4 linked regions of the Homo sapiens genome follow. The protein of the gene in region 2 interacts with the protein of the main gene of each other region in a pairwise test. Each region holds a gene or a part of one and is shown on either strand. Other genes may lie near its edges.

Region 1 (2,490 bases), on a different chromosome or scaffold from region 2:
GAAGGGGTAGAATTTGGACAGGAAGGTAGGAGGGGGCAGGGGGTCATAACTAGCAGAAATGACAGGGCACAGTGGCTCACACCTGTAATCCCAGCACTTTGGGAGGCCGAGGGAGGAGGATCCCTTGAGCCCAGGAGTTTAAGACCAACCTGGGCAACACAGGGAGACCCTGTCTCTACAAAAAAAATTTTAAATTAGTCTGGGCACGGTGGCTCACGCCTGTAAGCCCAGCACTTCGGGAGACTGAGGTGAGTGGATCATTTGAGGCCAGGAGTTGGAGACCAGCCTGGGCAACATGGTAAACCCCATCTCTACTAAAAATACAAAAATTAGCCAGGCATGGTGGTGCACACCTGTAATTCCAGCTACTCGGGAGGCTGAGGCACGAGAATTGCTCAAACCCAGGAGGCAGAGGTTTCAGTGAGCTGAGATCGTGCCACTGCACTCCAGCCTGGGTGACAGAGTGAGACTCTGTATCTTAAAAAATAGTAATAATAAAAATAAAAATTAGCCAGGCATGATGGTGCATGCCTGTAGTCCCAGCTACTTGGGAGGCTGAGGTGGGAGGATCACTTGAGCCCGGGAGGTTGAGGCTGCAGTGAGCTGTGATCCTGCCACTGCACTCCAGCCTGAGTGACAGAGTGAGACCTGTCTCAAAAAAATAAATAAATAATAAAAATAAAAAGTAGCTAGCCGAGGAGTGAAGCCCGAGCTCAGGGTACAGGGTGGGGGTGCCCAGCTTGACAGAGCAGGTGGCGCGCTGGGAATTCCTGCTTCTCCCCACACGTGGCGGCAGCCTGGGGTCTCCTGACCCATCTGAAGTTCAGGCTGGCCACAGGCAAGCTCACAGAGATGGCTGGGGATAGCTAAGGCCTTCTGCAGTAGGGCGAGAAAGATCTGGGGGAAAGAAGAGCTCACGCTGAAAGCCCAAGGGTTAGAAGAAGACTGAGCGGGAGGTGGGGGTGGCACTGGAGGGGCTGCAGGTTTGGGGGCTGCCTCCCCTGAACTGAGTGCCTTGGGGCACAGGAGAGCCCTTCCCTAACTCAGCACATCCTCTTCCCCAGCTGTGGATGATGCCTGCATTTGGCATACACCCGGAGTTTGAGAACGGGCTAGAAAAGGATTTCTACGGCTACCAGATATGGTTCGCCATCGTCAACTTCGGCCTGCCTCTGGGGGTCTTCTACCGCATGCACTCTGTGGGAGGCCTGGTGGAGGTCTACCTGGGGGCCTGAGGCTGCCCACCCCCGGCAGAACCTCGAAGTGCCAAGGTGGGGAAGATGGTAGCCCAGAGTCTCTGAGCAGATGCCTCATTCTGAGGTGCCGAGACCAGCCTGAGGCTCTCAAGGCCTCCTGCTCCCCAGAGCCTCACTGAAGGGGAGGGCACTGCCTAGAGCCAGAGGCCAACAGCAGGGGCCTGGACACTGAGCTTCTGATGCCCACGGCCAGGCCTGGGCACATGCCTGCCCCCTGCCTTCCCACCACGATCCGCAAGCCAAGGGTGCACCCCAGGAGGCTGGCAGGGGCCCCCTCACGGCTACTCTGTGGGAGGGTCAGACCTACATGACCGAGTCTGGGGAGCTTGGCGAGGGGCACCCCTCTCCAGCCAGGACTCAGAGGTCTGCCCCCTGCTGCGAGAAGAGCACCTGGTCCAAGTGTGGCTCTGGACATCCTCAGAGCTCAGAGCTCCGAGCTAGGAGGCCAGCTCCTCTCCCCACACACCTGTCTCCTAATGAGCTCATTCATTGGCTGCCAGGCAGGGTTCAACAGCTCTCTCCTGCCGCATAAACCCTATTTGTTTAATGGATTGCATTCAGGCTCATGGCATTTGTTCCCAGGGACAGAACTGCTCCTCCGGACATGGTGGGAAGGAATGGTCCTTTTGAGTAGGGCTGTGGGGCTGGGACAGTCCTGCTTCCGGGCCAGGAGGGGTCTAACCCAGTTCTTCCTTGGTCTGATCCGGGGGAAGAGGTGGGAGAGACAAGTCCGGGCTCGTGTCTCTCCACCCCCACCCCTCCCCAGCACACCCTCTCTCTAGGACAGAGCCCCCGGTGACATTCTGCAGCGGGCTCACCATGCAGGCTGTGGCCCCTGGCTGCCGGTCCCAGGCCTGGCTCATCTCCTGAGCCATCAGGTAGGGCAGGAACGGAAGAGAAAGGGCAGGTGTGGCAGGCCATCCGTCTCCCTGAGCCCAGTGCAAACAGTGGGCTCTGCCTGGGACGAGGCCAGAGAGGGCAGCCCTGGCCCTGCAGGTGAGGCTCTGCCCTCCTCCTCACCCACCCCCACCGAAGTGAGTCACTAGCAAGCATAGCCCTCCCAGCGCTGTCTCAGTGGCTGCCTGGTGAGGCCCCATGGCCTCTCCTGTGGGCTCTTTCTCTGGGCAGCAACAGCCCAGGGGCCCAAACCCTAGGTGACAGGGTCTGATCCTGCTTTCCCACCCAAGAAAATAACAAATGCTGGTTCCCAGTCATGCACTGGGGGCCCTCTGGG
Region 2 (5,842 bases):
TCATGGCTGGGAGACCTGTGGAAGTGCTTGGGTTGTGTCCAAGCCCATTGTCCCCATGGCCATTGGCTCTGGGCTCTGCTGTGAGTCCGATGGTGGCAGGGGGAGCAGATGAACTTGGGGCAGCAAGGATGGTCAAAAGAGGCCAGTTCCTGCTGGCATAGCACTCTCTTCTCTGTGCCTGACAAGCCATACTCACTTCAACTGTGAGGGCGTTTTCTCTTGCCTGTTTGTCACCTACATTTTTTGAAACTTGTCTAGTGGCCTTCCTTGAGGAGGGAGCTGCCGTCCCTGGCTGCATTGAGGGGTCTGCTTGGTGGCCTGGCCTCCTGGGATGGCAGGCTGTCCCCAGACTGACTCCACCTATGAGGCAGAGTGAGTGGAGGGAGACACAGTTTCCCACAAACTCTGGGAAACCTCTGGCAAGTCTCTGACCTCAGCCTCTTCATGTGTAAAATGGGATCTGTGTCTTACAATTCCTTCCAGTTCTAAATGGGATGTAGAGTATTGTGCTTATCTCAAACTGGGGCCTTTGGGCTACAGCTGGCCCTTTGACATGTATTGTTTGGTTTGCACATTTAAAAAAATGGAATGAGTTGCTGATTTCACATAAAATGGATATTTTACCTTCTTTTGAAAAGTGGGAAGCTCTGGCTCCCACACAATACTTGCTGCTGAGACACGGGTGTCTGCCCATGCCTTTGAGGCTGTCTGGCCATTTTGTTTGTGGAAATGCTGACCTGGAAGATATTTCAGTAAAAGCACAGGTTCCGGAGCCACCCAGACCTGGAGCCAATGTATTGACCTCTCTAAGATTCAGTTTCCTTACCTCTAAATGCTACTTGTTACATGCTGTCCCCCAGGGTGCTGTAGGAGGATCACATATACTTATCCAGGTAAGGTGTTTAGCACTGTGCCTGGCTGTTTCTTATAATCGTTGTCATTATTATAATGCATGTAACAAGTTGTCCCAAATTGGAATGGGATTTGAAGTCTGGCAGCACATGAAGGTAGATGACCAGATTCCCATTCCGACAGTGGGATCTGAGACATGGTTTAATGTGCATGGGAGGGTTGTTTGTTGGGAAGGAGTTTTATGGCAGAAGGTGGCTGTCCCAGCAGAGCTTATCTCTTGTGGGGGTCTAGGTAAAAATGACAGTCATCAGGGGTCTGGACAAGGAGGTTGAGCAGGAGAGCATGAGGGGTCATGTTCTTGAGTCACCAGAGGCTCTGCCTGGGTGGGGCCTAGAGCCACAGCAATGTAGGCATTGTGGCAGAGGCCTCAATAGTGGCCACTGGCGATGGGGCTGGGACATCTGGCCACTCACACTTAAAAGCACAGTTGCCTTCCACGTCCCCTGCTCTGCTTCTTCCACAGAAACACAAAGCCCTCAGAGTACCCCTTCGCAGGCCCCTGACTTCTGCATCCCTCATACACCAAAATTCAGATATACTCTAGGATTCTTGGGACACACAGGCTGCCATGAGCCTTGTCCAGAAGCCAGATCCAAGACCAAGGGCTTGCTTTGTAGCAGAGAGGATGTGGATTAGACAGAGGAAAGCATTTTCTCACAGTGAGGTAGTTGAACATTGAAATACCTTTCCGTGGGTGATGGCACAAGCCAAATGCCCTCTTTGTGCCTCTCTTCCCATTGACTACTAAAGTGAGGGCTGAATCATATGGAAAAAGAGCCCAGAGCTTCTCAGATGGCAGATCCTGTTAAACCCCAACTCTCATTCACTCTCACTTTTTTATTTCCTTTTTTTTTTTTTTTTTGAGAGAGAGACAGGGTCTCACTCTGTTGCCCAGGCTGGAGTGCAGTGGTGTGATCATGACTCACTGTAGCCTTGAACTCGTAGGCTCAAAGATCCTCTCATCTCAGCCTCCCAAGTAGCTGGGACTACAGGCATGTGCCACTATGCCTGGCTAATTAAATATATATGTATATATTTGTAGACACAGGGTTTTGCTATGTTGCCCAGGTTGGTCTTAAACTCCTGGTCTCAAGTGATCTTCCTGCCTTGGCCTCCCAAAGTGCTGGGATTATAGGTGTGAGCCACCGTGCCCAGCCATTCTCACTTTTTTCATTTAAAAAATCTGTCCCAGTGTCATTTTGCATCACTAGGAGGGGCTTCTTGACTGGGTTAGTTTTCCTAGGAAAGTTTGGCTAGGAGTAGGGTGCTGACAGACACAAGCAGATGGACTTTCTGGGTTCTGCTGCTATACCTGGCATTGAATAGCGTCTCCACGGAGGACTAAACCAGGGGGGACTGGCTTGAGACTGAGGTTTCACTGAAAGCAAGAGCTTCTGCTAGTGAGTTTTCTTTAGCTTCAGCACAGGCTGCTGGAGCTGGAGCAGGTCTGAAGTAGCTCCTCTGGCAGATGTTCAAGACTAGAGTCTCCCCAGTTTGGAAGGATGAGCATCAACCAGCCCCTGTGTGCTGCGTCTCCAGGAGCGAGCCCTTGCTGATTTCTGCTTATAATGCTTTGGGCAGGGGGTTAGGGGGTGCTGCTGTCTTCCCCTTATCAGGGTGGCTGAGATGGGGCTGGCCTATCTGGAGTGGGTGCTGGGAAACTCTAGGATCTCCCTGGTTGTGCCTTTGCATGGAAATGTCATTGCATCTGATGGGGAATGAGGGACTTTAAAGAGAAAACATCTTAGATGACCAGGTAATTGGGAGGACCTTTTGGAAATTCTTGCCCGCTTTGCAGGAATTTGAGGTGCTCATTTGGTTCCAAGTCACCTTGATCTCCCTGATGATGTTTGGAACGAATCACACTACCTTTTAAATCTCTGGGCTCAAAGCAGGCAACTTGTCCACTGTTGTAGGTGGATGCAGTTCTCCAGAGGTTCCTTTGGCTTTAATCAGTGCTCCTTTAAGACAATCCTTGAGACACCTCTGGAAGCAAGGAGATCACCACGAGCTTCCTGGACCAGTATGGTCCCTTTGGCTTGGTGCCTAAACCAGACGTACCCCAACTCCTGCCCCCATCCCAGCATAAGCTCTTGGCAATAAATGCCAGACTTCCCCTGCCCTAGCCTCCACCCAGCCTGCATTCACTCCTTTTCCTGGCTTTAGCCCAGCTCTTCCCCTCAATTGTGACATATCTAATGTAGCTCCTGTCCCAGGCTGTTCCCTCCTCACCCCCAGGCCTACCTGAGGTTCATGTCCCCCTTCATGGCCAGACTGAAGACATTGGACAGGTTCCCTCCAGGTGAGCAGCCACAGACCAAGATGGCCAGTGCCTCAATGTTCTTCAGCCGGAAGACCTTGCCCAGCACAAAGGCCGTGAGGGGCATGATGCCATACTGTGCCACCAGGGCGATGGCCAGCCCTTTAGGCTTCCATAAGTGAGCCTTGATCTTGCTGAACTCCATGGTGCAGCCCAGCGAGAGCATGATGAAGAACAACATGAACACCAGGATGACGCTCAGTGCCAGGTCTGTGGGGCGCTTGCCAAAGTTGGGTGGCAGGGTGAAGTTGAATGGGGCAGACGCGTTGTGGGCCTCCATCCTCCTGTGAGGCAGTGGAAGACCACTCCTTGTTCTCCGGCTGACTCCGTTTCTTGTGCAGTTCTTGCTGGATGCCTTCTTTAATCACCTCTCAGGACAGAGAGTTTCTGGACAAAAGCTCTGGGCAAATAGAAGGGTTATGCAACTATCTGAGCTATTTCTCTGGCTGTCGCCCCAAAGAGGAACAGCCCAGAACCTTATCTGCCTGCCCTAGCTCTCCCAAGCTCCCTGACCTCTGCTGGATTCCTGGGTGCTACTTGTACTCCTCCCTTGTCACTTTGCTGCTTCTGGGCTTATTTCTCCCCTTTGCCCTCCACTGAGTGTGCCTCATGGGCATTCATTCAGTTACTGGGGACCTGCCCAGGGCCCACCTGAATCTAGGTCCAGCCCATCTCCTTCCCTGCAGCTCCTTTTCCCAGCTCCGCTCTTGATTCCTTAGTTTCTTGGTTGGGGGAAGGTGCCCTCCCCATGTCCAGTGGGTTATCATTTGTCCCCAGAACCCATGAGAGTGAAAGGAGCTGGGTGTTGCCTTTGGTTCCTAGATACAGGTAGCATAGTCCAAGGGGGTGTGGGACAGGCAATGTCACTGGCCTCCAGGAGGGGATGTGTCCATGACCCTTTTCCTGGGAGCTGAGAGGATGCCAGTATCCTCCCTGCCTGTTCTGGGGAAATGTTTGTTTTATCCCCAAACTGGGACTGTATGAGTCCCAGGGAGGAATACTGGTGGTGGCTGCTCCACACTACCTGGAATGCTTACCATCAGAGGGAATAACCAGCTGGGATGGTGGGTGGGCTCTCAGGAAGCTTGGAGGCTCTTTCCCCGAAAAGCAACCTGAGAGAACCCTGGCTGTGGAGATTGCTTTGTGCCCGAGGAGGCCCATTGCTTGCAAAACTTGCTGAGAAGGAAGCAGGAATGCAGTCTTTTCTTCCTGACTTCCTGATTGCTTTACTTTTGCACTGGGCCTGTGTGTTTCAGGCTGGGAGCCAGGCTTGGGGCGTGGAGCAGAAGCAGAGAGAGGTGGGCATGCCAGGGGCGGGGCCACCTAGTGTGTGAGGTTATCCTAGGCCTTGCTCTTTCCATCTATCCCCACTGCAGAGGTGGGACAAGGGAGGAGGGGTCTCCTTCAGAAACACAATTGCTTCTTGGCTTGGTTGGAACCTAGGAGGCCTGGGTGGGGTCTGAAACAGGTGATTAGGCTTTGTATGTAGGACTCCAGAGGGCAGAATAGGGACCAGGGTGTGAACCACTGTTGGGTGGAGGTGGGGACAGATTTTGGCTTGGTGCAAGGAACCACCTGAAAATGAGAGCTCTCCAAGAATGGCCTTGAGGCCTCTGGAATCCTGCTTGGATAAGGGTTGGATGGCAGGATCCATACATATTGCATCATATCCATGAAAAGGCTGCTCCCTGGGCTTGCGCGGTGGGCAGCCTGCGGGGCCGTATACTGTGGCCCTGGGTGACATGAACTTGAAGCCTCTTTTCCTTTGAGAGTCTCTGCTAATGATTTCCTGGTGCTTGAGTTGGGCTGGTATCAAAGGGAGGGCAGGCAGAGGACTGGGCACTGGATGTGATGCCTGGACTGAGCGTTCCCACAGGGTAGGGTTGAGTCTCAGAGGAGGCTGCTTCCTCTCCCTGGGGCTAATCAGAAGGGAACAGAGTTGCTAGGGGAGAATTATTGATCACTAACTGAGTACCAGGCACCATGGGAGGCAAAAAAAATAAAAATAAATAAATAAAAAAAACTATATAATTCATGTTCCTGTTCTCAGGGACCTGATGGTCTGTACAAGACCACAGATGGCCAGATGGTACACAATGCAATATGGAAGCACGTGAGGGTGGAGGCCATGCAGGGCTGCCAGGTACACCTGTTCAGGTTGGGCACTACACAATGCTAGGGACGCCACTCTACAGATGTCTTGTGCAACCGTACATGAGGCCTTGAAGTCAAAGGGAGACGTTAGGTTTTTACACATTTGCCTGATGCCAAAGGGTGAGGAGGAATTGACCAATATCTGTTAAAGATCAGGGTCTGGGCATGTGTCTATTGTGCACATCCAAAGAGAAGAAGAGTTCCTATGAACACATTTGTAACCTGGATTCTAAACCACGTAGTCTCTATCAACTCTTCCTCCTCACCTCTTCTCAGGAACCCAAAATCCTTCCACCTCCTACTGTGAGTTTTTCCCTTTGAGAAAACAGTTTCTTGCCCTGGCTGCCCCTCCTCCCACTCCTTCCCATTCCCTCTGTTCCTAGCAATGTGACTTTGCAGAGAATGGAAAAATCTCTTCCAGGAACCTGACACCCTCCATTCTTTTCCCCATATCCC
Region 3 (3,009 bases), on a different chromosome or scaffold from region 2:
GCGGAGGCGGGAGACACAACTGGGGCCAGGGCTTTCGACTTGGAGACCAGTGAAGGGGCGGCCTCGGGCAGCCGCTCCTCTCAAGCCACATTTCCTCCCAGTGCTGGGTGCACTTAACAACTGCGTTCTGGCTAACACTGTTGGACCTGACCCACACTGAATGTAGTCTTTCAGTACGAGACAAAGTTTCTTAAATCCCGAAGAAAAATATAAGTGTTCCACAAGTTTCACGATTCTCATTCAAGTCCTTACTGCTGTGAAGAACAAATACCAACTGTGCAAATTGCAAAACTGACTACATTTTTTGGTGTCTTCTCTTCTCCCCTTTCCGTCTGAATAATGGGTTTTAGCGGGTCCTAGTCTGCTGGCATTGAGCTGGGGCTGGGTCACCAAACCCTTCCCAAAAGGACCCTTATCTCTTTCTTGCACACATGCCTCTCTCCCACTTTTCCCAACCCCCACATTTGCAACTAGAAGAGGTTGCCCATAAAATTGCTCTGCCCTTGACAGGTTCTGTTATTTATTGACTTTTGCCAAGGCTTGGTCACAACAATCATATTCACGTAATTTTCCCCCTTTGGTGGCAGAACTGTAGCAATAGGGGGAGAAGACAAGCAGCGGATGAAGCGTTTTCTCAGCTTTTGGAATTGCTTCGACCTGACATCCGTTGTAACCGTTTGCCACTTCTTCAGATATTTTTATAAAAAAGTACCACTGAGTCAGTGAGGGCCACAGATTGGTATTAATGAGATACGAGGGTTGTTGCTGGGTGTTTGTTTCCTGAGCTAAGTGATCAAGACTGTAGTGGAGTTGCAGCTAACATGGGTTAGGTTTAAACCATGGGGGATGCAACCCCTTTGCGTTTCATATGTAGGCCTACTGGCTTTGTGTAGCTGGAGTAGTTGGGTTGCTTTGTGTTAGGAGGATCCAGATCATGTTGGCTACAGGGAGATGCTCTCTTTGAGAGGCTCCTGGGCATTGATTCCATTTCAATCTCATTCTGGATATGTGTTCATTGAGTAAAGGAGGAGAGACCCTCATACGCTATTTAAATGTCACTTTTTTGCCTATCCCCCGTTTTTTGGTCATGTTTCAATTAATTGTGAGGAAGGCGCAGCTCCTCTCTGCACGTAGATCATTTTTTAAAGCTAATGTAAGCACATCTAAGGGAATAACATGATTTAAGGTTGAAATGGCTTTAGAATCATTTGGGTTTGAGGGTGTGTTATTTTGAGTCATGAATGTACAAGCTCTGTGAATCAGACCAGCTTAAATACCCACACCTTTTTTTCGTAGGTGGGCTTTTCCTATCAGAGCTTGGCTCATAACCAAATAAAGTTTTTTGAAGGCCATGGCTTTTCACACAGTTATTTTATTTTATGACGTTATCTGAAAGCAGACTGTTAGGAGCAGTATTGAGTGGCTGTCACACTTTGAGGCAACTAAAAAGGCTTCAAACGTTTTGATCAGTTTCTTTTCAGGAAACATTGTGCTCTAACAGTATGACTATTCTTTCCCCCACTCTTAAACAGTGTGATGTGTGTTATCCTAGGAAATGAGAGTTGGCAAACAACTTCTCATTTTGAATAGAGTTTGTGTGTACCTCTCCATATTTAATTTATATGATAAAATAGGTGGGGAGAGTCTGAACCTTAACTGTCATGTTTTGTTGTTCATCTGTGGCCACAATAAAGTTTACTTGTAAAATTTTAGAGGCCATTACTCCAATTATGTTGCACGTACACTCATTGTACAGGCGTGGAGACTCATTGTATGTATAAGAATATTCTGACAGTGAGTGACCCGGAGTCTCTGGTGTACCCTCTTACCAGTCAGCTGCCTGCGAGCAGTCATTTTTTCCTAAAGGTTTACAAGTATTTAGAACTCTTCAGTTCAGGGCAAAATGTTCATGAAGTTATTCCTCTTAAACATGGTTAGGAAGCTGATGACGTTATTGATTTTGTCTGGATTATGTTTCTGGAATAATTTTACCAAAACAAGCTATTTGAGTTTTGACTTGACAAGGCAAAACATGACAGTGGATTCTCTTTACAAATGGAAAAAAAAAATCCTTATTTTGTATAAAGGACTTCCCTTTTTGTAAACTAATCCTTTTTATTGGTAAAAATTGTAAATTAAAATGTGCAACTTGAAGGTTGTCTGTGTTAAGTTTCCATGTCCCTGCTCTGCTGTCTCTTAGATATCACATAATTTGTGTAACCAATTATCTCTTGAAGAGCATTTAGGAAGTACCCAGTATTTTTTGCTGGATTAATTCCTGGATGCAGAATTCCTGGGTTTTCATTTTAATGAAGGAGGATGCTTGCTAACTTTGAGTGAGGAGTCATATCTGATTGTAGCATGCTTTATGGCATTTTTATAGCTTCTACCCATGGATCTGAGCCCTGGAACTTTATAAAATTAGTTTAATCCTGTTTCCTCATAAGGCACACACAGACTAGATAGCAGGTGCCATGACATTCCTGAGCCCTTTTTTTTTTTTTTCCTCGAGGGTGAACATCCCAGTCTGTATCTTGGGCCTTCGACAGGCCAACTTCACTCATCACAAGGTGAGGTGACAGGAAGCAGGTTGTATGTATGTCCCTCTTCTATTACTGGGGAAATACTGAAGCAATAGAAAAAGATCCCGCTTATTTAGAAGGACACATTGCCAGTATCATTGTGTTCTAAGCTACCTTTTGAATGACATGGATCTAATAATAGGCAATGTTGCAGTTGCCAACATCTTCGTTTATTGCCAACTCTGTTTCTGAGGTCCCTGCCCCTCTTACACTTTCAGCAGTAACTTAACACTCTGAATAACTAACCTTTGAAAGAAGTTACTCCTTTCTGGACTTTATACTGTTTTTTTCTTAGAAGGCTGGGCTGAGCAAATGGGTTTACTGGCAGTTCACTTGTTTGCCTTCCAGAGTGACTGGTGATCAGAATTGGCCAGGAATACCATGTCCTGTGTTTACTTCTTTCTTAACCCTCCCTCCCACCTTCCCT
Region 4 (3,190 bases), on a different chromosome or scaffold from region 2:
AGGGCGCAGTCTCTGAATCTTTCCACGGGGTCCATCCTAGGGCCCCTCCAGGTTCAACGGTCTCCTAACCTGTAGTCACCCACAAGAGCGTGCCCTTTCTGCCCGCCCTTCCTAGCGTTGCTCCCTGCTTGGCTGAGCACTGCGGAGTTTCACGCCTCTAAACCCCGCCTCTTCTTGCAACCTGTGTTGGCCTCATCTACCCAGCAACTGTCGACGTCACACGACCTGGGCCTCCCTGAATGGGAGATATTTACTAGGCAATCCCGCCTACTGTTCTGAGGTTTCCCCTCCAGGTGCAGCTTCAGAGCCAGGCGAGCCAGGAAGGACCAGCGGGCGAGGTGGTGAGTTGTGAGGCGCGCCCAGTCCCTCTGTTCCCGCCTGGCACTTGCTCTGGCCGCGCCCGCCCCATCTGCCACTTCGGAGAGGCCACGGCTCTGAGCTGCGGCCGCTAGTGCCCTGATGGGCCCTGTGGCTGGGGTCTTGCACATTCTTGGGGGTGGGCCTAAGGGGATAGGGGAAGTGGAAGGGGCCTCATAGGAATTAAAAAGCTTAAGGGAAAAGGTGATGCAGTTAGGGGGTAAAACATTGAGGATGATAAAAGAGGAGACATCCGCAGCTGAAAAGTGCGCTGCAAAAGGCAGTGGGCCGTTTGGTGTGCCGGAAACATAAGAAACCACAGTACAAAACACCAATTTTATTATAAATATCAAGAACCTACAGGGTGTTTATGGGCCAGCATATGCCTTCAGTTATGTTGAAAATAGCTGATCATCTTTCCGTACATTCTGAACATTTCTCAGTTTCAGAGTGCTGGCCACACCAAAGCATCAGCCCTGGCTCTAAACTCCGTTACAGTAAGGAATTACAAATCCTGTGTTTGTACTCCAGGAAGTCTGCATTATCACGAGGAGCTTGGAAAGGAGGTAACACACTCAAGGCAAATTTCAAGTAACTCATCCTGGAGGCAGCTGCCTACTCTGCAGCTGTGGTTCTCCACCACAGAGAGAAGAAAAGGGAGGGAGATGGAGTGCGCAGGTCTGAGAAGGCTTTCATTCTGGAGCATCTGCAGGAGCCTGCACCATGGCCCAGTAGCACCCCTTTTTCTCCATGAGCTGCTGGTGGGTTCCCCCCTCCCGGATAGCGCCTCCTTCCAGAAAGAGGATGTGGTCAGCCTGCTCCACCAGGCTGAGGTGCTGGGTGATGAGAAGCACTGAGCGGGAGTACCGCTCAGGGCTTTCGTACAGGAGCTGCTCCACCTGAGGAAAGACATCGGACCGTCAGAGCCGGGGACTACCCTCAGCCCAGGGAGACACCTGTGTTTCCAGGGCTGGGACTGACCTCACAGGATCACTGCTGGCTCTGCTAACAACCCCAAGGACACCAACGTTTCCCATTCTGAGTACTTCTCCGCAAACCCTTTGTTTCATTAAGGACTGTTTTACATGAAGGGTGCAAAAGTAGGATAAAAATGAGAACCCTAGGGTGAAACACGTGACAGAAGAATAAAGACTATTGAATAGTCCTCTTCTCTACCCATGGACTTGGCATTTTTATATTCGATTTTAAGGAAATATAACTTAGTAGTAAAGAGATGAGCATTCAAGTCAGGCAGACCTGAATTTGGGTCAAGGCTGCGCCACTCAAAAGCTATATGACCTCTATATGAGCAGCTTATTCAACCTCTTTTAACCTCCATTTTGTCATCTGTAGAATGATGATAAATGCCTAGCTCAGAAGGATTCCTAATGAATAAATGAGTGACAGTGCATGTAAACAGACTAGCTTAATTAATATTAATATGATTAGGATGGGCTGGGCCCGGTGGCTCATGCCTATAATCCTAGCACTTTGGGAGGTCAAGGAGGGAGGATCACTTGGGCCCAGGAGTTCAAGGCCAGCCTGGGCAACATAGCGGGACGCTGTCTGTACAAAAAATAATTTTTTTAAATAAACGATATTATGAGGATGGTCTTTTCCTTATGTTTCGCTTTAGAAATTCAGTCTATAGGACTGGGCGCAGTGGCTCACACCTATAACCCCAGCCCTTTGGGAGGCTGAGGGGGGCAGATTACCTGAGCTCAGGAATTCAAGGCCAGCCTGGGCAACATGGTGAAACCCATCTCTACTAAAAATATAAAAGTCAACCAGGCATAGTGGTGTACACCTGTAGTCCCAGCTACTCGGGAGGCTGAGGGGAGAATCGCTTGAGCCCAGCAGGTTGAAGCTGCAGTGAGCCAAGATTGTGCCACTGCGCTCCAGCCTGGGCAACTGAGTGAGACACTGTCTTAAAAAAAAAAAAGGAAAGAAAGAAAGAAATTCAGTCTGTAGTTTGTAGATAGTCTCTTTTAACTGATTCTAGGTGTCTTTGCCTCGTCTTCTATCTCTACTCCTTGGGGAGGCATCCAATGGAACTGGATTTGGGAACTGAGAACTGCAAGGACTGGTTTGTATAATTATGATGTTAGTAAAACTAACAGAAGATGTATAAAAGAAGCAAGATTGGGTGGGATATAGCCATTAAGAAGATGACTGCCTCACCTGTAACTGGCTGTTTGCATCCAGGGCACTGGTGGCATCATCCAGGATAAGTACACACGGTTTCCGGATCAATGCTCGGGCCAACGCCACTGCCTGTCGCTGACCCCCTGACAGCTGGCTCCCAGCCTCGTCTACCTCTGCAGAGCAAAGGGCCAAGATGAGAACGGTATAGCCACATGTGTGCACGCATGTACATGCACACAGACACACTCATGCATTCACGCACTCACACACACCAAGATCTGACGGTTGTAGCTGGATAGGGGAGATTCTGGGAAGATGAACAGAATCCTGAGGATGTCAGGATGAAGAAGCCATAGGAGCATGATCTTACAACTTCAAATTGATGTCCATGAGTAAGGAGGAACTGAAGGATAAAGGCAAGACTACTGGGGTTTCAGCAAAGGTAAAGATGGCTGGGTGGTGAGATGAGTGGAGAGAGTACCTGTGTCATAGCCCTGAGGGAGTCCAGAGATGAAACTATGGGCCCCAGACTTTACTGCAGCAGCTGTGATTTCCTCCATAGTTGGCTTCTGGGTCAGGCCATAGGCAATATTTTCTTGAAGACTTCTTCCAAATACCTGTGGCTCTTGTCCCACTGCAGCCACCTGAGATGAAATATGATGAAGAGTCATAGAACAAGGCACATGGG

Evidence for each region. Proteins that work in one complex are often made in the same cells at the same time.
Region 1: the proteins of SLC10A1 (region 2) and OTOP3 interact in binary tests that used the Homo sapiens proteins (3 or more experiments, as listed by UniProt).
Region 3: the proteins of SLC10A1 (region 2) and DERL1 interact in binary tests that used the Homo sapiens proteins (3 or more experiments, as listed by UniProt).
Region 4: the proteins of SLC10A1 (region 2) and TAP1 interact in binary tests that used the Homo sapiens proteins (3 or more experiments, as listed by UniProt).

What each region holds. Positions count from the first base shown.
Region 1 is NC_000017.11:74,948,182-74,950,671, forward strand, and holds the end of OTOP3 (proton channel OTOP3), read left to right. Parts: intron 1-1,064; coding exon 1,065-1,235; 3' UTR 1,236-1,811; downstream 1,812-2,490. UniProt on the Homo sapiens protein: Proton-selective channel gated by extracellular protons.
Region 2 is NC_000014.9:69,793,644-69,799,485, forward strand, and holds the start of SLC10A1 (hepatic sodium/bile acid cotransporter), read right to left. Parts: upstream 3,599-5,842; 5' UTR 3,513-3,598; coding exon 3,157-3,512; intron 1-3,156. UniProt on the Homo sapiens protein: As a major transporter of conjugated bile salts from plasma into the hepatocyte, it plays a key role in the enterohepatic circulation of bile salts necessary for the solubilization and absorption of dietary fat and fat-soluble vitamins.
Region 3 is NC_000008.11:123,012,491-123,015,499, reverse strand, and holds the end of DERL1 (derlin-1), read left to right. Parts: coding exon 1-53; 3' UTR 54-2,330; downstream 2,331-3,009. UniProt on the Homo sapiens protein: Functional component of endoplasmic reticulum-associated degradation (ERAD) for misfolded lumenal proteins. Forms homotetramers which encircle a large channel traversing the endoplasmic reticulum (ER) membrane.
Region 4 is NC_000006.12:32,844,530-32,847,719, forward strand, and holds the end of TAP1 (antigen peptide transporter 1), read right to left. Parts: intron 3,147-3,190; coding exon 2,984-3,146; intron 2,676-2,983; coding exon 2,539-2,675; intron 1,972-2,538; exon of another isoform or gene 1,257-1,971; coding exon 1,050-1,256; 3' UTR 680-1,049; downstream 1-679. UniProt on the Homo sapiens protein: ABC transporter associated with antigen processing. In complex with TAP2 mediates unidirectional translocation of peptide antigens from cytosol to endoplasmic reticulum (ER) for loading onto MHC class I (MHCI) molecules.